Homo sapiens: one gene and its partners. The gene in region 4 interacts genetically with the main gene of each other region. Each region holds a gene or a part of one and is shown on either strand. Other genes may lie near its edges.

What was found.
Region 1: changes in RPS10 (region 4) and CHEK1 are lethal when combined (synthetic lethality), as found in Homo sapiens cells (one large-scale study listed by BioGRID).
Region 2: changes in RPS10 (region 4) and CHEK2 are lethal when combined (synthetic lethality), as found in Homo sapiens cells (one large-scale study listed by BioGRID).
Region 3: of RPS10 (region 4) and ATG10, changing one suppresses a phenotype caused by changing the other (phenotypic suppression), as found in Homo sapiens cells (one large-scale study listed by BioGRID).

Annotation. Positions count from the first base shown.
Region 1 is NC_000011.10:125,629,011-125,636,795, forward strand, and holds part of CHEK1 (serine/threonine-protein kinase Chk1), read left to right. Parts: intron 1-221; coding exon 222-286; intron 287-380; coding exon 381-450; intron 451-4,152; coding exon 4,153-4,341; intron 4,342-6,418; coding exon 6,419-6,523; intron 6,524-7,785. UniProt on the Homo sapiens protein: Serine/threonine-protein kinase which is required for checkpoint-mediated cell cycle arrest and activation of DNA repair in response to the presence of DNA damage or unreplicated DNA.
Region 2 is NC_000022.11:28,735,321-28,738,820, forward strand, and holds part of CHEK2 (serine/threonine-protein kinase Chk2), read right to left. Parts: exon of another isoform or gene 1,964-3,500; coding exon of another isoform or gene 1,940-1,963; intron 1-1,939. UniProt on the Homo sapiens protein: Serine/threonine-protein kinase which is required for checkpoint-mediated cell cycle arrest, activation of DNA repair and apoptosis in response to the presence of DNA double-strand breaks.
Region 3 is NC_000005.10:81,976,879-81,984,663, reverse strand, and holds part of ATG10 (ubiquitin-like-conjugating enzyme ATG10), read right to left. Parts: intron 6,336-7,785; exon of another isoform or gene 5,815-6,335; intron 5,165-5,814; exon of another isoform or gene 4,986-5,164; intron 3,757-4,985; exon of another isoform or gene 3,247-3,756; intron 1-3,246. UniProt on the Homo sapiens protein: E2-like enzyme involved in autophagy. Acts as an E2-like enzyme that catalyzes the conjugation of ATG12 to ATG5. ATG12 conjugation to ATG5 is required for autophagy. Likely serves as an ATG5-recognition molecule. Not involved in ATG12 conjugation to ATG3.
Region 4 is NC_000006.12:34,416,954-34,420,011, forward strand, and holds the end of RPS10 (small ribosomal subunit protein eS10), read right to left. Parts: intron 1,472-3,058; coding exon 1,416-1,471; intron 595-1,415; coding exon 553-594; 3' UTR 501-552; downstream 1-500. Other genes in the region: RPS10-NUDT3 protein, read right to left, coding at 1,416-1,471. UniProt on the Homo sapiens protein: Component of the 40S ribosomal subunit. The ribosome is a large ribonucleoprotein complex responsible for the synthesis of proteins in the cell.

The DNA of each region.
Region 1 (7,785 bases), on a different chromosome or scaffold from region 4:
GTTTTCTCTTTATAATTTTTCTGTGATGACGCCTTTTGCCACCTAACACAGGTAAATGTGAGTTAAGCCCCATATGTGTTAGTGGACTCCTGAATCTTTTGTTGGCATTTGCTTCTGTTTGCCTAAGCACATTTGTAAATGTCTAAGCTTCAAATTAAGAAGCTATGTGGTTGCTACCTGATTATATTTAGTCAATAAACTTACTTTCATATTTGTTTTAGAGCCAGACATAGGCATGCCTGAACCAGATGCTCAGAGATTCTTCCATCAACTCATGGCAGGGGTGGTAGGTATAGTTGTCTATTTCCCTTTTACTTAAAATTAGAGTGAATACATTACATTACCAAATTCTAGTGTGTTTCTCTCTGCATCCCTCTTAGGTTTATCTGCATGGTATTGGAATAACTCACAGGGATATTAAACCAGAAAATCTTCTGTTGGATGAAAGGGGTAAGTTTAGCATTTTATCACTACCTAAAATAAAATAAAATAATTACCTAAATTATTTTAATTACCTAATTATTTTAATATAGCCATACAAGGCAAAATCAAGTCTTTTTGCATTACTGGAATTTCAAGACAAGATCTGAAAAATCAAGGAAATTTTGGAGACTTCGTATATTTGGAAATCACAAGTCTCATTTTGCAATACAAGTGCGGATCAGGTAGAGAAATCTGACCTAGGTGCAAGCCTAGCTCACTATATGTATAAGAATAATTTTTTTTTTTTTGATACAGGCTCACTGTGTTGTCCAGTCTGGGGTGCACTGTATTATCACAGTTCACTGCAGCCTTGACCTCCTAGGCTCAAGCAATCCTACCATCTCAGCTTCCCGAGTAGCTAGGACCAACCACAGGCAGGTGCCACCATGCCTGGCTAATTTTTGATTTTTTGAAGAGGTGGAGTCTTCCTGTGTTGCTCAGGCTAGTCTTGAACTCCTGGACTCAAGCAGTTTACCAGCCTTAGCCTCCCAGAGTGTTGGGATTATAGACGTGAGCCACCATGCCTGGCCAAGAATAGTTTAAAATAATCCTTTAATGGATTAATAAAGGGAAGTTCCTGTGGAATACCCTGGACCTTAGTCTTGTCCTGTTCACTCTTTTTTTATGTATGACGTGGATAAAAATGTAAGAAATTTAGTTATATTTTCTGAATGTCATCAAATTGAGAAGGATGGATAGCGAAAGCTTTAAGCTTACAGGGTCAGAATCAAAAAAGAAATGTCAGCTGTATGAGGCAGTAGTTTTTGTCTGGTTTAATGCTTTATTCTTAGTATTAGAATAGTGCTTAACAAATGGTCAGCTTTTTTTTTTTTTTGAAACAGAGTCTTGCTGTGTTGCCCAGGCTGGAGTGTAGTGACATGATCTCGGCTCACTGTAACCTCTACCTCTCTGGTTCAGGTGATTCTTGTGCCTTAGGCCCCTGAGTAGCTGGGATTACAAGCCTGAGTCACCACACCTGGCTCATTTTTATATTTTTAGTAGAGATGGGGTTTTGTCATATTGGCCAGGCTGGTCTCGAGCTCCTGGCCTCAAGTGATCTGCCTCCCTTGGCCTCCCAGAGTGCTGGGATTATAGGTGTGAGCCGCTGTACCCAGCCTATACATGCTTTTTTCTTATGTGCATATGGATTTTACTTTTTACCCCTTTAAACTGAGTTTATATGACATAAAAATCTTTATTTTTATTTAAAACTTTAAAAATTCAGGTACACAAAAATTCTTATGTATTATAATGAAATGTAAATATATGTATATCAACCCACCTGGTTTAAAAATACAACATTATTCGTATATAAGAATGCTCACAGTGGTGATGTTTTTAATATAGCAGGAAACTAACCCAAATGTCTGTCAACAATAAATTATGAAATGCATGGCTTTTCAAGCCATGTCACAAGCAGTGACACAAGCATGTCACAAGCAGTGACATGGATGAATTTCAGGTATATAATGATGTAGAGCAAAAAGAGACAGTTGCAAAAGAATTCATATGGTCTGATTCTGTTTATACAAAGTTCAAAAATATGTAAAACCTAGTATATTGTTCAAGTATGTAAACATGGAGAAAAAAACATGCAGAAAAGCAAGGGTATAATAAAACCAAATTCAGAATGGTCTAAGAAAGTAGGGGAGGGAATGTATTTAAGGAAGTATTTAAAGATTTCAAAGGAAATAGAGCATTGTTTTTCTAAAGTGAGTGGGTGTTTATTACATTGTTATTCTTTATATCTTGTATTAATATACAAGATATAATTCTTTGTTTCTATTTAATATTTAGGAGTCTTTTAAAAAAAGAAATAAAATGTTACCAGTATTTAATGTCCTCCTGTTTATTTCATCACAAATATATTCTTCCTTTGTTTTTCTAAGAGCTAAACACATTCCTACATTTAAATTTTATTATGTGCAGTTCTCTAACATAGCTGAGTATTATGTTGCAGACATAACAAAGTCCAAGGAATACTATAGTTATCCATTAGTATTTTAAGTGATTACTACTCATAAGTAATTTGAAACTCAATCTCAGTGGTTTGTCCAATAGTGTCATATTTAACTACTGAAAAGATAATCAACTGGGTGCAGTAGCTCATGCCTGTAATCCCAGAGGCTGAGGTGGGACGATTGAGTGATTCTAGGAGTTTGAGACCAGCCTAGACAACATAGACCCTGTCTTTATGAAAAATTAAAAAAAAAAATTAGCTAGACATGGTGGTGCACACCTGGAGTCCCAGCTACTTGGAAGGCTGAAGCAGGAGGATTGATCACTTCAGCCTAGGAGGTCAAGGCTGCAGTAAGCTGTGATCACATCACTACACTCTAGTCTGGGCAGCAGAGTGAGACACTTTCTCAAAAAAAAAAAAAAAAAAAAAAAAAAAGGGTAATCACAGTAGCTACCTCCTAAGTCAGATAGAGGTAAACATTTCATTGGTTTACATATTGTGTGAATGTACTTGATTTTTAAAGAAATCAGTCCCCTATTTTGAGACATTTAAGTTGTTTCTAACTTATAAAATAGGACAGTGATGGCTTCTATCAATTTGTGTAAAAGGCCAATATAAAAATTGCGTCATGCTATAATATTTTTTATGCTATAATATTTTTTATGCCATTAGCCTTTTTGTCCCACTTACACACTATTTCATGTTAGTATGTATAGATATACCTTGTTGATTGTTTTCAAAACCTACCTCCACATTTTCCATTGTACAAATTTGGACATTTATTTACAAATAATATTGCTATGAATATTCTTATGTTTATGAATTTGTGGGATTATTTCTATGGATATAGAAGTGGGAATTGCTAGTTCAAAGAGTGAATGTTTCACAGTTTAGTATGTTTTGCCAAATTGCCCTCTGATAATAGAGGGCCTTTTCTAACTCTTAAGACTGGGTTACATTCCTTTGCTCTAAGATCCTATAGTGCTCTATATTTTTATAACCTTCATAACAGTTTTCTATTGTCAGTCTTCACTAATTTATCTATTACCTGCATTGGCTGGCATAGTGTCTGTCACTAAGTTACAGTAGATATTCACTAAACATAAGTTAAGTCCTGCCTGCAGTTTTTGTGTGTTGAAGATGGGAAGTTAGGGTGGAAGTTGGGTCTTCTGATATTTTTTTTTTGTACAGAGTTTGTCCTCTTTTTCTCAGACTCTCTACTTTGAAGAAAAAAATTACTGTGGTTTGTTGAATTTTGGTGTGTCTTCACATATTTTCTTCTGCCAACTGGGTTTGTTTGCTGCTGAGAAAGTTGTGCCTAACATACTACTGATGTTTCCTTCCTGCCCTCCACCCTACCTGATGAGGGGCCTTGCTTTACTTTCATCTCAGGTTTAGAGTGCTCTTTTCCAGAAGGGCAGCCCCTTCTGACTCCAGCCTCTTTCTTTAATCTGGTCCAGACTGTTCTGTGTGTTGATAATACTTCTTTTAAGTTAATAGAAGAGGTGAGGCCTTTTTCTACTTTTAGCATAGATGATGATTTATTTTATTTTTTTAAATTTCTTTTTGTCTATTTTGCTTATTTTAAGAGAAGTTCTACAAACCTTAAGTAACACCAGTGATTTTTTTTCAGTAAAACTTAATTCCTGTAAGTATATCTATTTGCAAAACATTTTTATTCAGTGTCATCTTTTTTTCTTTTGGTTTAGATAACCTCAAAATCTCAGACTTTGGCTTGGCAACAGTATTTCGGTATAATAATCGTGAGCGTTTGTTGAACAAGATGTGTGGTACTTTACCATATGTTGCTCCAGAACTTCTGAAGAGAAGAGAATTTCATGCAGAACCAGTTGATGTTTGGTCCTGTGGAATAGTACTTACTGCAATGCTCGCTGGAGGTAAGAGCTATTTAATCATGGTAAAACTCCTATAAAAAGTCAGATTAGTTATACTGAAATAAATGAAATAAACCAAGGAATTCATGTTTATATAATAGTTTTTGTTTTCTTTTTTAAGAGACAGGGTCTCACTCTTGGCCAGACTGGAGTACAGTGAGCTGTTATAGCTCACTGCAGCCTCAAACTTCTAGGCTCAAGCAATCCTCTGGCCTCACTCTTCCAAGTAGCTAGGACCAGTGGTGCCTGCCACAAGACATCTGGCTAAGTTTTAAAAATTCATTGTAGAGATGGGATCTTGCTGTGTTGTCCAGGCTGGTCTTAAACACCTGGTCTCAAGCAAGCCTTCTGTCTTGGTCTCCAAACTGTTAGGATTAAAGTAAAGACATGAGCCATGGTACCCAGCTTTTATAGTAGTATTTTAATAGTGTCTTGATCGGTTTGGTAACTGCTGTAACAAAGTATCATAGACTGCATAGCTTATAAACAGCAAATTTATTTCTCACAGTTCTGGAGGCTGAAAATATGAGATTAGGGGTGCCAACCTGGTCATGTTTTAGTGAGGGCCCTCTTCCTGATTTGCAGATGGCTGTCTTGCTGTGCTCTCTCATGGTGGACAGCCAAGAGAGCAGAAGCAAGCTCTATTGTGGTTTTTTTTTTTTTTTTTAGACCAGAGTCTTGCTCTGTCACCCACGCTGGAGTACAGTGATGTGATCTCAGCTCACTGCAACCTCTGCCTCCCAGGTTCTAGCAATTCTGTCCCAGGCTCCCAAGTAGCTGGGATTACAGGCATGCATCATCACACCCGGCTAATTTTTGTATTTTGAGTAGAGACAGGGTTTCACCATGTTGGCCAGACTGGTCTCAAACTCCTGACCTCAAGTGATCCCCCAACCTCAGCCTCCCAAAGTGCTGTTTTTTGGGTTTTTTGTTAAATGACCAGATGTTGTGAGATATTGTGTCTGTTTTTTGTTTTTTTGTGGTTTTTTTTGAGACAGGGTCTCACTCTATTGCCCAGGCTGGAGTGCAGTGGCACAATTCAAGGCTCACTGCAGCCTTGAGCTCCCAGGCTCAAGCGATCCTCCTGCCTCAGTCTCCTCAGTATCTGGGTCTACAGGCGTGCACCACCACACCTGGCTAATTTGTTGTGGGTTTTTTTTCACAGACGGTCTCTCCATGTTACGTAGGCTGGTCTTAAACTCCTGGGCTCAAGTAATCTGCCTACCTAAGCCTCCCAAAGTGCTGGGATTATATAATTAGTGCCCTATAAAGATACAATATTGTCCGGGCACACAAGCCCTTATTAGACATTAATAAGCTCTTAATAAGAGCACTAATACCATTTTTTGAGTGGTCCCATCACCAGGACCTAATTACGTCTCAAAGGCCCCACCTCCGAATGCCATTGCATTATGAGTTAGGATATCAACATGACTTTTGAGGGGGATACAAATATTTAGCACATTGCAAATAGTAACTTATTTATAATCCCAAAGATTTTTTAAGCTAAGGCATGCATAGTTATTAAATATCACAACACTTATCTCTCCTGTGTATCATGTAAACATTTGTGAAAACAAGACTAGGGCAAGAAATGATTCATCTGTTTTTTGGTTTTTTTTTTTTTGAGACAAAGTCTTGCTCTGTCGCCCAGGCTGCAGTGCAGCAGTGTGATCTTGGCTCACTGCAGTCTTGACCTCTTGGGTTCAAGTGATCCTCTCACTTTAGCCTCCTGAGGAGCCAGGACTACAGATGCACACCATCACGCCCAGCTAATTTTATTTATTTTTTGTAGAGATGGGGTCTCACTATGTTGCCCAGGCTGGTCTTGAACTCCTGGGCTCAAGCAGTCCTTCTGCCTCAGCCTCCCAAAGTGCTGTGATTACAGGCCTGAGCTGCCATGCCTATCCTGATTCATCTATCTTTGAAGTGCCTCTAAAGTTTCCAAGTTGGGATTCTTAGTGTGAAAACCATATTGAATTAATTCAAAGGAAACTTTTCATGGATTTATATTATTATTTTTCCTTGAAATCTTTATAATAAGAACATTTAAAAAAACTGGGACTTGCTTTGTTTTTAGAATTGCCATGGGACCAACCCAGTGACAGCTGTCAGGAGTATTCTGACTGGAAAGAAAAAAAAACATACCTCAACCCTTGGAAAAAAATCGATTCTGCTCCTCTAGGTAACTGAATTATCTTGAGTGAAAGAGTACCGATTTCTTGGATATGAAGTCTTGTGCTATTTGAATTTTTTCTTACTTTTTTTTTTGTTTTAAACTTACAAATAATTCATGTTCGTTGTAGATAAAATAGTAACTATAAGTAAAAAATTAAGGAAAAAATAACTCTTTAGTCCCAGAACTCTGCAATAGATTTTTAAAAATATTTTGGGGAGTGTATATTCAGAGCAACTTGAATCTGCTCTTAGATGGCTTTTTACTTAAAGTTTTCATATGTGCTATACTTTGTTGCAAATACACTCGTTTGTTGCTTAATTATAGGGATGCACTCTAACAAATGTTTCATTAGGTGGTTTCATCATTGTGTGAACATCATAGAGTATATTTACATAAATCTAGATAGTATAGCTTACTATAAATCTAGGCTATTTGGTATACCCTATTGATCTCAGGCTGCAAACCTGTACAGCATGTTACTATACTGAGCACTGTAAGGAATTGTAACATAATGGTATTTGTGTATCTAAGTATAGAAAAAGTATAGTAAAAATACAGTATTATAATCTAATGGGACTGTCTGTTATACGTGTGGTCCATTCCTGACTGAAACATCATTAATGTGGCCCATAAGTATGTAAAATGAATATATGTATATTATTTATATGTGTTTTTATACAAAATGAGATCACACTAATAATATTTTGTAACTGTTTTTGGTTTTAGTGCGCAGCGAACATTCTTCCATGACTATAATTGTAGGTCTACATCGTTGGTTTAAAGGCTGTGATAATATTCTGCCATGTGGATATGCCTTACTTTACTCTTTTAATCACTTTGTTGGAGATTTTTCTAAATTTTCACAGATACAAAAGAGATATAAGTATCTGTGTAACTTAATCATGACACATACCCTTAAATTGTTCATTGAAATCCCCAGAAGCAAAATTGCAGGATCAAGGATGTAGTTTTTATTATTATGGCTTATTTTGTCAAATTGCTTCCCGAAAGTTCGAACCATTTCATCACAGTCTCATCAATTTACATTAAGGAAAAAAACTTTAAATAATAGTTTTTCATTTTTATTTTAAATTTAATACTAATGAAGTTGTATACCCTTTATGTATGTATTAGTTTTTTGTCTATTTTGCTCATTTTTGTCAAGGATATTGTTTTTCTTACCACTTTGAAGCTTTTTTTTTTCCTTGATAACACATTGACCTTTGCACTTGTTACAAATACTTTTCACAATTTATCATTTATTTTCA
Region 2 (3,500 bases), on a different chromosome or scaffold from region 4:
GCTTGAGCCCGGGAGGCAGAGGTTGCAGTGAACCAAGATTGCACCACTGCACTCCAGCCTGGGCAACAGTGCAAGACTCCGTTTCAAAAAAAAAAACTCATATATACAGTCCTCAATTTAACAATGCTTCTATTTAACAATGTTTAGACTTTCTGTGAAAGCAATCAGTAGACACTTACTTCTCCAAGTCCTCACATAACCATTCTGGTTTTCACCTTCAGTACAGTATTCAAGTAATTACATGAGATATTTAACACCTTATTATAAAATAGGCCAGGTGGCCAGGTGCAGTGGCTCACACCTATAATCCCAGAACTCTGGGGGGTCAAGGCAGGTAGATCACCTGAGATCAGGAGTTCAAGACCAGCCTGGCCAACACAGTCAAACCCCGTGTCCACTAAAAATACAAAAATTAGCCGGGTGTGGTGGCAGGCGCCTGTAGTTCCAGCTACTCAGGAGGCTGAAGCAGGAGAATTGCTCGAGCCCAGGAGGCAGAGGTTGCACTGAGCTGAGATCGCGCCACTGCACTCCAGCCTGGGTGACAGGAGTGAAACCCTGTCTCAAAAAAATTAATTAATTAAATAAATAAAATTTTAAAATAAAATAAAATAGGCCAGGTGCAGTGACTCACAACTGTAAACCCAATATTTCGGGTGGTGGAGGTAGGAGGATTGCTTGAGGGCAGGTGTTTGAGACCCCACCTCTACAAAAAATAATAACAATAATCTTTGTGTTAGATAATTTTGCCCAACTGTACCCTGACATAAGTGTTCTGAGCATGTTTAAAGGAGGCTAGGCTAAACTATGACGTTTGGTATCTTAGGTGTATTAAATGTAATTTCAATTTAACAATATTTTCAACTTAGAATGGTTTTATTTAGACATAATGCCATTGAAAGTTGAGGAGCATCTGTGTACTTTGGAAAGCAAAAGAAGACAAAAAATCAGGTGGCTTGATATAAAAGTCAAAAAGAAATTGTACAATAACCTGCTGCATTACTCCAAAGGGTCCATTTACATAAAATGTCACTGGTACCCCTTTTCCCCCAGGCTTGCTCCTAAAGTGAAACACACCTGTTCGTTCAATCTATATTCCCTGACACCTAAGGACCCAGTGACTTAATGAGGCAGAACACAAAGGAAGACAGCTCTTAACAACTCCACCTATCCCTTTGTGATGCTAAATAACCATAGGGCTTATCTTTTCAGCATCCTAAATGGCCTTCCGGCCTTGATGTAATCTTGCAGGAACCATTCTTTTATAAACTGGAGACCGTAACAGAGGCTTCCACCCTTGTCTTAGAATTAACCTGATAGACAGTTAGACTGTCATAACAGGCTGGGTGCAGTGGCTCATACCTGTAATCCCAGCACTTTGGGAGGCCAAGGCAAGAGGACCACTTGAGGCCACGAGTTCAATACCAGCCTGGCCAACATAGTGGGACCCCCCCCGCCCCCCGTACAAAAAATAAGAAAATTAGACATGATGGCATGCAGCTGTGGGCTCAGCTACTCAGGAAGGTGAGGTGGGAGGATCACTTGAGCCCAGGAGTTGAAGGCTGCAGTGAGCTATGATCATACCACTTACATACCAGCCTGGGTGGCAGAGTGAGACCCTATCTCCAAAGAACAGAAAACAAACCAAGACTCTGATAACAGAACCACCAGTAAAATCAAAGTAACATCCACTGCTGACCTAATCGGATTAACAAAAAAAAGGGAGGGAGAGGAGGGCATTCTCTTCCTCCCCAAACTCAGGCTACTACTCTAGGAGAACATAGGAAACAACACTATAGTAGTCCCCACCATCAGAGGGGGATAAGATCCAAGACCCCCCAGTGGATGCCTGAAACCTCGCATAGTACAGAACCCTATATAAATTATGCACAACTTTCTTTTTCCTTCTTCACAATTTCACAAATAGAAGATTAGTTCTTACCATAGACGTTAGCAGCCTCAGCATACAAATTTTTTTATTTCCATATTAAATTGAGATCTTTCACCTTTTCAGTAAAAGGAAACACTTTACAGCTTCTCTTTACAATATCCAAATTGCCAGCATCTTTTGCTTTGGGGCCATTATTAAATATAAGGGTGACATGAACACAAGCACTGCAAAACCATGTAATTTAAGACTTATGAACTGATTATTTCTTTTTTTTTTTTTTTTTGAAACGGAGTCTCAGTCACCCAGGCTGGAGTGCAGTGGCACAATTTTGGCTCATTGCAACCTCCACCTCCTGGGTTCAAGCAATTCTCCTGCTTCAGCCTTCCAAGTAGTTGGGATTACAGGCGCACACCACCATGCCCGGCTAATTTGTATATTTTTTTTAGTAGAGACAGGGTTTTCACCGTATTGGCCAGCCTGGTCTCAAACTGCAGACCTCAGGTGATCCTCAGGTCCACCTCAGCCTCCCAAACTGCTAGGATTACAGGCCTGAGCCACCATGCCCAGCCATGAATTGACTATTTCTTATGAATTTTCCACTTAATAGTTTCAGATCGCAGCTGACCATTGGTAAGTGAAACTACTACCGCTGATAAGGAGGGACTAAGATACCCACACTGATTGTATTTACACAGCTTTCAAGATACAAAGGTTCTGCCAGGTGTGGTGGTTCATGTCTGTAATCCCAGCACTTTGGGAGGCCAACGCAGGTAGATTGCTTGAGCCCAGGAATTCAAGACCAGCCTGGGCACCATGGTGAAATCCAGTATCTACAGAAAATACAAAAAATTAGCAGGGCATGGTGGTGTGCACCTGTAGTCCCAGCTACTTGGGAAGCTGAGGTGGGAGGATCACTTGAGTCCAGGAGGTTGAGGCTGCAGTGAGCCGTGATCGAGCCTGCACTCCAGCCTGGGTGACAGAGCGAGACCCTGTCTCAAGGAAAATAAAAAAGATACAAAGGTTCTGATGAGTTTTCTTTAAAACATACCAGGAAGGCAATGCCAAAACTGAGTATGCCACACCAGGGACTGCTGGTCTAATACTACCTGAGCCAGGCTGAGTCTTCCCCACAGCTTTTTAAGCAAGACAGGACAACTGGAGAAAATGTGTCAACAAGTTACTATGAGAGATTAGAGGCAAGCGGATCTGGAGTCAGACACTTGAGTGAAACTGTGCATGACTTTAGGTAGATCACAACTTCTCTAAACCTGTTTTCTCATCTGAAAATAAGTAGACAGACCATGAGGATTAAGTGAAGTGACGCATGTAATACTCCCCCCACCCACCCATGCTTGCTATCTGGGAGCTATTGCTATTGGAAAGCCATGCAGAGAAGTGAGTGAAAAACCAAAGTGAGGGCAGCAAAACTCCAGGACTGTAGACAGAAATCCAGTCCCAAAACCTATAAAACTACTAGAAGAAAACACTGGGGAAGTGCTCCAGGACACTCATCTTGGGCACAGGTTTTTTGGGCACAGGGTTTTTACGTAAGACCTCAAAAGCACAGGCAACTAAAGCAAAAACAGACAACTGGGATTTCATCAAGCTAAAA
Region 3 (7,785 bases), on a different chromosome or scaffold from region 4:
AAAAATGGAAATAACCACAACTGTGGCTTATTGAGCAATAATGGCAAGAATAATCCTTATTTTGCAAATGAAAAATCTTAGATATGTGAACTGCCTATTCTTCCAGACTTAAGCTATCTTAAACTAAATTCAGACTACAGGTGACAACAGTCACTCAAGTGAACTCTCAGTAAAAAGATGAATTTCAATTCTCATCTGATCCTAAACAATGAATCTCTCGCCCTCTCCCTCTCCCTCTCCCTCTCCCCACGGTCTCCCTCTGATGCTGAGCCGAAGCTGGACTGTACTGCTGCCATCTCAGCTCACTGCAACCTCCCTGCCTGATTCTCCTGCCTCAGCCTGCGGAGTGCCTGCGATTGCAGGCGCGCGCCGCCAGGCCTGACTGGTTTTCGTATTTTTTTGGTGGAGACGGGGTTTCGCTGTGTTGGCCGGGCTGGTCTCCAGCTCCTAACCGCGAGTGATCCGCCAGCCTCGGCCTCCCGAGGTGCCGGGATTGCAGACGGAGTCTGGTTCATTCAGTGCTCAATGGTGCCCAGGCTGGAGTGCAGTGGCGTGATCTCGGCTCGCTGCAGCCTCCACCTCCCAGCCGCCTGCCTTGGCCTCCCAAAGTGCCGAGATTGCAGCCTCTGCCTGGCTGCCACCCCGTCTGGAAAGTGAGGAGCGTCTCTGCCCGGCCGCCATCCCATCTAGGAAGTGAGGAGCGCCTCTTCCCGGCCGCCATCCCATCTAGGAAGTGAGGAGTGTCTCTGCCCGGCCGCCCATAGTCTGAGATGTGGGGAGCGCCTCTGCCCCGCTGCCCCGTCTGGGATGTGAGGAGCGTCTCTGCCTGGCCACGACCCCGTCTGGGAGGTGAGGAGCGTCTCTGCCTGGCCGCCCCATCTGAGAAGTGAGGAGACCCTCCGCCCAGCAGCCGCCCTGTCTGAGAAGTGAGAAGCCCCTACGCCCGGCAGCCACCCCATCTGGGAAGTGAGGAGCGTCTCCGCCCGGCAGCCACCCCGTCCGGGAGGGAGGTGGGAGGGTCAGCCCCCCCGCCCGGCCAGCCGCCCCGTCCGGGGAGGTGAGGGGCGCCTCTGCCCGGCCGCCCCTACTGGGAAGTGAGGAGCCCCTCTGCCCGGCCAGCGGCCCCATCCGGGAGGGAGGTGGGGGGGGTCAGCCCCCCGCCCGGCCAGCTGCCCCGTCCGGGAGGGAGGTGGGGGGGGTCAGACCCCCGCCCGGCCAGCCACCCCGTCCGGGAGGGAGGTGGGGGAGTCAGCCCCCCGCCTGGCCAGCCACCCCGTCCGGGAGGTGAGGGGCACCTCTGCCCGGCCGCCCCTACTGGGAAGTGAGGAGCCCCTCTGCCCAGTCAGCTGCCCCGTCCGGGAAGGAGGTGGGGGGGTCAGCCCCCCGCCCAGCCAGCCACCCCGTCCAGGAGGGAGGTGGGGGGGGGGGTCAGCCCCCAGCCCGGCCAGTCGCCCCGTCCGGGAGGGAGGTGGGGGGATCAGTCCCCCGCCCGGCCAGCCGCCCCGTCCAGGAGGTGAGGGGCACCTCTGTCCGGCCGCCCCTACTGGGAAGTGAGGAGCCCCTCTGCCTGGCCACCACCCCGTCTGGGAGGTGTACCCAACAGCTCATTGAGAATGGGCCATGATGACAATGGCGGTTTTGTGGAATAGAAAGGGGGGAAAGGTGGGGAAAAGACTGAGAAATGGGATGGTTGCCGTGTCTGTGTAGAAAGAGGTAGACATGGGAGACTTTTCATTTTGTTCTGTACTAAGAAAAATTCTTATCCTGTTGATCTGTGACCCTACCCCCAACCCTGTGCTCTCTGAAACATGTGCTGTGTCCACTCGGGGTTAAATGGATTAAGGGCGGTGCAAGATGTGCTTTGTTAAACAGATGCTTGAGGGCAGCATGCTCATTAAGAGTCATCACCACTCCCTAATCTCAAGTAATCAGGGACACAAACACTGCGGAAGGCCGCAGGGTCCTCTGCCTAGGAAAACCAGAGACCTTTGTTCACTTGTTTATCTGCTGACCTTCCCTCCACTATTGTCCTATGACCCTGCCAAATCCCCCTCTGCGAGAAACACCCAAGAATGATCAATAAAAATAAATAAATAAATAAAAGGGGAAAAAAAAAAAACAATGAATCTCTCATTTCTAGTTGTAAGTAGGTTAGAAATGAGTCAGCGCTCCTCATGTCATAAAGTATAAGTTGTTTTGTTTTGTTTTGTTTTTTGGAGACGGAATCGCCCAGGCAGTGGCATGATATCGGTTCACTACAACCTCCACCTCCCGAGTTCAAGCGATTCTCCTGACTCAGCATCCCAAGTAGCTGGGACTACAGGCACACACCACCACACCAGGCTGAATTTTTGTATTTTAGTAGAGATGGGGTTTCACTGTGTTGCCCAGGCTGGTTGCGAACTCCTGAGCTCAGGCAATCCACCCACCACCCCACCTCGGCCTCCCAAAGTACTAGGATTATAGGCGTGAGCCACCACGCCTGGCATAAGTTGTTAATACATCCATTTTGCTTGAGTCTTACTCTGGCTGAAGAGTTGTGTTGTTTTGTTTTTGTTTTTGTTTTGTGACATTCAATCAAAACCTTTTTCTAACTGCTTTAGCAGAGACTAAAGATTGGAAAAATAGAATAATTTTCTGTTTTTCCAAGTGAGGGTAGTCTTTCCAAACTGTAAGTTAGCCCTTAGACTAGAAGGATAGAAGAAGCTTATTCTGCTGCTGTTCAAATATATCTTTCCAGAAAAGCAGCCTTAGTGAATTCTAACACTGTATATAATCATTGTTTAAATGATCCTTTTTAATTGAAAACAATTTTTTCACTACCACTCTCCATACTGTTTAATGTGATTTTTAATCTAATGTGTGTAGAACTAATTCTTTGTTATTGTTTTAGTTGGAGACGTTGATTTGATGAATCTATAAATCAATGTACATCAAAGTCATAATAGGACTAAAACACTATAAGAAATATAACTGAATTTCCCAGAACTTAAGATCATTTACAAAAATGTGATTACCACAGAACATGCGATGCATACATTTAAACATTAAAAATCATTTTTGACTAATAAAGTAGGCAATTTCCTGAATACTTGTCCCTCCTAGCAACAATTCCACATTATTTATAACTCTAAGTGTAGACTCTTTTTTAAAAAACATGCACTATCAGGTAGGAGAGTTAAACATCAACCCACTACTTTTATGGCAATTTGGCTTGAATTGATTCAGATTAATTTAATCACTTACCTAGCAAGGTCCTTAGGCAGTGGTCCTCAAATTTTAGACAGCAAAGAAGCACCCACAGTGCAAATTCAAATGTGGAATCCTAGGCCTTGGCCAGAAAAATAACCTGATTCTGAAGACCCAAAATAATTACTTTTAATTAGCACCTGGGATACTTTCAAAGGGAATCATGCTAAAAGATTAGCATGATCCCTAGACAAAAGATGAATCACTTTGACAGGGCTGGTAAAAGACCTGGATTTCAAGACATTTGGCAGCCTGGGTGGGACACAGAAGGCATGGCCCTGGGCAATCCAATAAAATAGCACAGAGACACATCAGAAGAGAAGTCGTATCAGTCCTAACAACAGATGACCAGCAGGCTCAATTCTCCCTCCTTGCCTTCCCATTGGAATACATATTCCAAATCAAAGTTTAAATGAGAGGCAACACTGTACCTGGCTGGAAATGAGGAATCTCTGTTGGTAGCTGAGGCTTGCTCTGACCTCTCTATCACTAGGTCAGGGGAAAGAGGGTCATTTCACTCTCTCCCATTCCCTTCAGAGAAACAGATCCTGAGTTGCCCCTCCCCTCCTGGTTTCTAGCTCCACTGGTAATTCTCTTTCAAGGCAGTTCTCTCCCAGTAGTGCAGTGTGCATGGCCAGATGTGGAAGGTAAAGCCCTGAGGTGCACTGAGTACTGTGCAGCGAGCGACAGGTAGCTGCAGGAACAGAATGAGCTCTCAGCATAGTACAGTCTCACCACTAACACCCCAAAAAACTAAAAAAAAAAAAACTATAAATTATTTCAAATCACACAAAAACACTCCCCTCATTATAGTTACAGGACCGAAAGATTCAACACTAGGAAAGGAAGACCTCTCCTAAGTATAGAAAATGATCTATCCTTCATAAATTTCGTTGTACCCATTCATCTGCTTTCCAAGCTAACATAAAGAGGAAGATTCCTCCAGCTTCCAAGTGTAGTGAGAGAGACGAAGGAACACTTGGTCACTCTGACCAGTCAACATGCCCCTCTTTTGTCAAGGTAAGTAAACCAAAAACATTAATAACAACACAAGACCTTTAAGAAGCTCTTGCATAAGAAAAGAGGGGAACTACCATAAACAGGAAGAGGGAAAGCTTGCTCCTGTAATGGACTTACACTAGGAATATGGAAATCAAACCGAGGAATTATCTACTCTATGTTCCCAATTTTAAAAAGAAAAAGAGAAAGGGAAAGACCTCTAAAAGCAAGAGATGAGGAAGGAAAAACAGCTGAGATGAAAAAGGAAACTGGATAAGAAAAAACTGGAAGGAAATTCAAACACGTAACAGTAGAGATAAAAATTCTACATTCAAGGCAACAGAGAGATGTATAGAAGCTGGAAAAAAATCACATTCGTGTTTCAGTGTATAAGCACATAAGATCCTCTCCAAACACACAAAAGAAAAAAGACCATGATGAAAATAATGCATATTGTTTGATGGAAGGACAAAGAACACAGGTCCAACCTACAAATAACTGGAATTTCTGAACTACAATCATAAGCAAATGTACAACTGAAAAACTGTTCTAAGATGGAAAAAAAAAAAGATTTAAAATATTTACCTATAAATTGAAAGAATTCACCATGTTTCTAAAAAAAACAAAGCTGCTGGAAAGAAACTTATGCCTAAACATAGCCTACAGGAATATCTTAATTTAAAGACTAGAAAGAAAAAAAGATGCAGGCAAAAAAAAAAAAAAAAAGGTTTACCTACAATTAGCAAAAATCAGGGTAGCCTCTGCCATCTTCACCCACTGCAACAAATGCCAGATGATAGAGCAATGTCTGCAATGTCTGGGGATTTGATTTACACTTCGTATCTTAGCATCTATAACAGATAGGCAAACAGTAAACATTTTTTTTTTGAGACGGAGTGTCGCTCTGTTGCCCAGGCTGGAGTGCAGCGGTGCTATCTCGGCTCACTGCAAGCTCCGCCTCCCGAGTTCACGCCATTCTCCTGCCTCAGCCTCCCGAGTAGCTAGGACTACAGGGGCCCGCCACCACGCCCAGCTAATTTTTTGTATTTTTTAGTAGAGACAGGGTTTCACCGTGTTAGCCAGGATGGTCTCGATCTCCTGACCTCGTGATCCGTCCATCTCGGCCTCTGGAAGTGCTGGGATTACAGGTGTGAGCCACCGTGCCCAGCCAGTAAACATTTTTTTTTAAGTTGTAAATGAATAAAAGAAAAATTCAGACCAGGCACCGTGGCTCACGCCTGTAATCCCAGCACTTTGGGAAGCTGAGACAGGAGAATCACCTGAGGTCAGGAGTTCAAGACCAGCCTGGCAAACATGGCAAAATCCCTTCTCTACTAAAAATACAAAAATTAGCCAGGTGCAGTGATGTGCACCTGTAGTCCCAGCTACTCCAGAGGCTGAGGCAGGAGAATCACTTAAACCCAGGAGGCGAAAGTTGCAGTGAGCTAAGATTGTGCCACTGCACTCCAGCCTGGGCGACAAAGCGAGACTCCATCTTAAAAAAAAAAAGAAAAATTCAAAAATTTGAATGGACTTATTCTATACACCTCTTCTCATTTATAGTACCTTTCTTCAACTTTCAGGCCTGTTCACTTCTTGGACCTTTCTTACACAAACTGATGTACACTTTGCAAGGCCGAGGTAGGAGGATCACTTGAGGCTAGGAATTCAAGGTTGCAGTGAGCTATGACCGTGACACTGCCCTTTAGCCTGGGAGACAGCAAGATCCTGTCTCTAAAACAAACAAACAACAACAAAAAAAACCACAGATCTATATGACATCCAATCTTTCTGATACCAGTATCATTACTTTTATCAAAAGATAATTTTTTAATAAAACTCTGCAAGCACATAAGAAAAAATGTTCCACCACTGATGACAATTTGAGCTGATCCACAGCTCAAACTCTCTTGCTGCCTTTGAACAGTGGGTAGTAGGACTAGTACAACAAACTCTAGTCAGCACATATGCCAAGTATCCAGAATTAGGAAATAAGGAGATAATGGGGTATCCTTGGCCAAAAGTATCCAAAAAATAAGAAGAGACAGAAAGGAGCAGTGGCTCATGCCTGTAATCCCAGCATTTTGGGAGGCCAAGGTGGATGGATCACCTGAGGTCAGGAGTTTGAGACCAGCCTGACCAACATGGTGAAACCCCATCTCTACTAAAAATACTAAAATTAGCTGGGCGTGGTGGCGGGCACATGTAATCCCAGCTACTTGGGAGGCTGAGGCAGGAGAATTGCATGAACCTGGGAGGCAGAGGTTGCAATGAGCTGAGATCATGCCATTGCACTCCAGCTTGGGCGACAGAGCAAGACTCCGCCTCAAAAAAAAAGACCAACACAATATCAGAAGCTACAGAATCAGTGCCAGTCTGAATACAGATTACAGAGCAAAGTGTCTTTAAAATATACTACCAAGTGCCATATTTTTATTTTGGAAAATAAAAAAAGGAAATGGTTGGACATTTTTGTAATGAAAGGCACATTCCCTTTAAATTTTTCTTCTTGCAAAAGTCTTTGTTCAGAGATGAGACTAATGTGCCTTCTATTTCCACAAGTTTTTCATTCATTCACTCAGTACCTACAATACCCTAGTGCTTGCTGTGAGTGTCCTCCTAGAAAAGAATGTCAAACTTCCTGGCAAAACTGGGGAAGACTCCAAAACTTGGAGTTCTGAACACATGAATTCAATTCTTGAAGAAATGAATTTTGAAATTTGAGTAAGGGCCAACCAGGTGGAGACAAAGTCACTCCAAAAAGATTGAGGAGCTCCTGCAAAGACAGGGTCTGAAAAGAATGCAAGGTTTAAAAATAAAACAAATGTCAGTGGATGGAGCATAGCTCGGGTGGAGAAGAGTATGGGCAAATAAGGTCTAATGGTTCCCAACTTTATGGGGAACCCGCTCTTCAAGGGGCTGCTTGGAAATAAATGGGATCATATTGGATTGTTAAAAAGAAGTTAGAGTTTGCCATTGCCATTTAGTGCTGAGGGACCAGGTAAAATAAACATCCTACAATGTACAGGACAATCCCACACAGTGAAGAGTTGTCTGTAAAAATGCCAGTAGAGCTCCCTTTGAGAAATACTGGGAAGTAGGTAAGGAATTAACAAAGTCTAGAGAATTTAACTCTAGGGCCTCAGCGTATCCTTTAAAATCTGTGATCACAATCTCCATTTCACTCACTAAATATTTACTAGGTGCTAAAAGATAAACCAAGGCACATTAAAATTTTAAAGGATTTATTTGAGGTCAGGCAAAGTAATCCTAGCACTTCGGGAGGACAAGGCAGGTGGATTGCCTGAGCTCAGGAATTCAAGACCAGCCTGGGCAAATGGTGAGATCCCGCCTCTACAAAAAAATACAAAAATTAGCCTGGCATAGTGGTGCATGCCTGTAGTCCCAGCTACTTGGGAGGCTGAGGTGGGAGGATAGCTGGAGCCCAGGAAATTGAGGCTGCAGTGAGCCATAACTGCACTACTGCCCTCCAGCCTGGGCGACACAACAAGATACTGTCTCAAAAAACAAAAACAA
Region 4 (3,058 bases):
TTTGAACAGTGGTTTTTGTGCATTGTTTTCTCCCTTGATTCTTGTCAACAAACGCTGAGCCTTGAAGACTTAGATTAGTAACGTTGGCCTAAACACCATTCCTGTGCTTCTTCTCCATAAATTGAAGGATTCCAAGTGCACCATTTCCTTGGTCGTTACCTTTCATCCTCCCTCCCCAGTACTTCTTATAGTTCCTGACAGCAGGCACAAATCACGACTCCAGGCCAACCAGCAATTTTCCCACCATGCTGAGCTGAGGCAGCATGGCTGGTCTAAAGAAGGGACCCAGTTTTCCAACTGCAGCACCATATGGGACACCACTCTGCAGGGAGGCACTGCCTAGAGAAAGCAGGGCACACGCCAAAGCCAAGTACAGCAGCAGCCGGTGTCACCCAGGACAATGACAACTCCCCAAACCAAGCCTGTACTGCCCCATTTACATTCTGACACTTAAACTGTTCCTGTTCAGGCTGCACAATGCAAACAAAATGGACAAAAGATTAAGGTTTTTTGGCTGTAAGTTTATTCAATGCAAAAGAATCCTCTCCAATTTTACTGAGGTGGCTGACCACGTCCACGACCAAATCCGCCTCTCTGTAAGAGAAAGCACATCACATCAGCATGAGCGGCACTCTGGTTTGATCTTTGGAGGTTTTGCTAACTTTCAGGCCTCATTATAACTCCAGAGGCCCCCAAATGTAAACAGCTGGGAGAGAGCTGAGTACAGGCTATAAATCCCAGCACTGCCCCTTACTGGATGTGGGGCCATATCTAACATCTAGGCCCATTTCTTCATTGGTAAAGTGGGAGTATGGCCACCCACCCAGAGTGTGTTCATACATACTCCTATGAAAGCATCCAGCACCAGGATTGGACCGTTTCTACTGTACATGCTTCCTTTTTACAAATGACATTATCTGAGAGCAATCGTGTGCTATGAGGACCTGCCATAGGACAAAAATGATATGCCAGTACTATGCCTGGATTAACTAATCTCACAACTACCTTAGTAGCTGTAATTATCACCTTATTTTATAGATGGAGAAACTGAGGCAGAGGGGAACCTACCTAACATTACATCAACTGAAAAAAGATGGAGGATTTGATTTCATACCATCTTGGTTCTTAAGCCCACCCACCTTCCAGTGTTTAGTTCAATGTCAAGCATTAATGAAACAGAAAATACTAGTAGGCCACATGTACTGATTTCTGAGACTCATTTCAGTAATTTATGTATTTACAAAAGTTTGCATGCTACAACTCAATGTAAAATTTGGAATTTGGAAAAAAGTGGGAGGAGGGAACTGGTTGACAGGACCCACCCATACTATATGACATCCCCACAACTTGCAGAGCAACCAGACTGAGGCCAGAACAAGTGATGGCTCATGGAAAACAAATAGGAAGATACTCACAAACTGGAATTCGGTTGCTGACCCAGCCCCAGCCTCGGCTTTCTTGTCGGCACCAGCTAGAAAGTGAAACATCGATTTAGAATCATCATATGATCTAATCTACTATAGAACAAGGGAAGACAACTCACTGACTCCAATCTTGCAGGAAAAGCCAAGTACCACTCCGTTAAATATAAGCAAATTACACCAGTGGTGGGGAATACCTTCTGAGCCACCTTTGTCTCTCCTGGGGCACCCTTCTCAGCCTTCCTTATGTCACCCTTCAATACTCACAGCCCAAACTATAAATCCTCCCAAAGGATTCCTACTTCCTATCACACTGACTGACTTACCCACTTCACAGCAGCATCTAGATAACAAAGGGAGTGTAATTATGGAAGAACTAACATGTAAAGGGAAGGGCCCACAAAAGCCTTAATTACCACCATGGGAGAAAAGCAGACAAGATGCTGCCCGGTCCTATATCCCAGTCACAGTTCAAATGGAGACGTGTGCAAAATTCACCAGTTTTCTTTTACTTATTTGAGACAGGGTCTTACTCTGTCACCCAGGATGGAGTGCAGTGGTACGATCTCAGCTCACTACAACCTCTGCCTCATGGGCTCAAGCGATCCTCCCACCTCAGGTGGGACTACAGGCAGCTAATTTTTATATTTTTTGTTCGTTTGAGACTGAATTTCGCTCTTGTTGCCCAGGCTAGAGTGCAATGGCGCGATCTCGGCTCACTGCAACCTCCGCCTCCCAGGTTCAAGCGATTCTCCTGCCTCAGCCTCCCGAGTAGCTGGGATTACAGGCATGCGCCACCATGCATGGCTAATTTTTTTGTATTTTTAGTAGAGATGGGGTTTCTTCATGTTGGTTTCTCCAGGCTGGTCTCAAACTCCCAACCTCAAGTGATCCGCCCACCTCGGCCTCCTGAAGTGTTGGGATTACAGGCATGAGCCACCGCACCCAGCCCTAATTTTTATATTTTTTGTAGAGATGGGGTTCTGCCATGTTGCCCGGGCTGGTCTAGAACTCCTGAGCTCAAGTGATCTGCCTGCCTCAGCCTCCCTAAGTGCTGGAATTACGGGTGTGAGCCACTGCACCCAGCCAATTACAAAGACTTAAGAAAAAAAGAATGTAAAATATTTCACTACTCTTTATACTGATTACATGTTAAATTAACACGTTTAGATATTTTTTAAACCGATTTATTTGTATTTATTTACTTATTTTTTTTTTTTGAGACGAAGTCTCACTCTTGTCCCTGAGGCTGGAGTGCAATGATGCAATCTCAGCTCACTGCAACCTTCACCTCCTGGGTTCAAGCGATTCTCCTGCCTCATGCTCCGAGTAGCTGGGACTACATGTGCATACCACCACGCTTGGCTAATTTTTTGTATTTTAAGTAGAGACGGGGTTTCACCATGTTGTCCAGGCTGGTCTCAAACTCCTGACCTCAGGTGATCTGCCCGCCTCGGCCTCCCAAAGTGCTGGGATTACAGGAGTGGGCCACCGCGCCCGGCCCTGATTTATTTGAGTTGGTGCGGGGGGCAGGGTCTCACTCTGTTGCCCAGGCTGGAATGTAGCAACAAGATCATAGCTCACTGTATCTCAAACTCCTGGGCTCAAAACAATCCTCTTGCCTTGGCCTTCCAAGT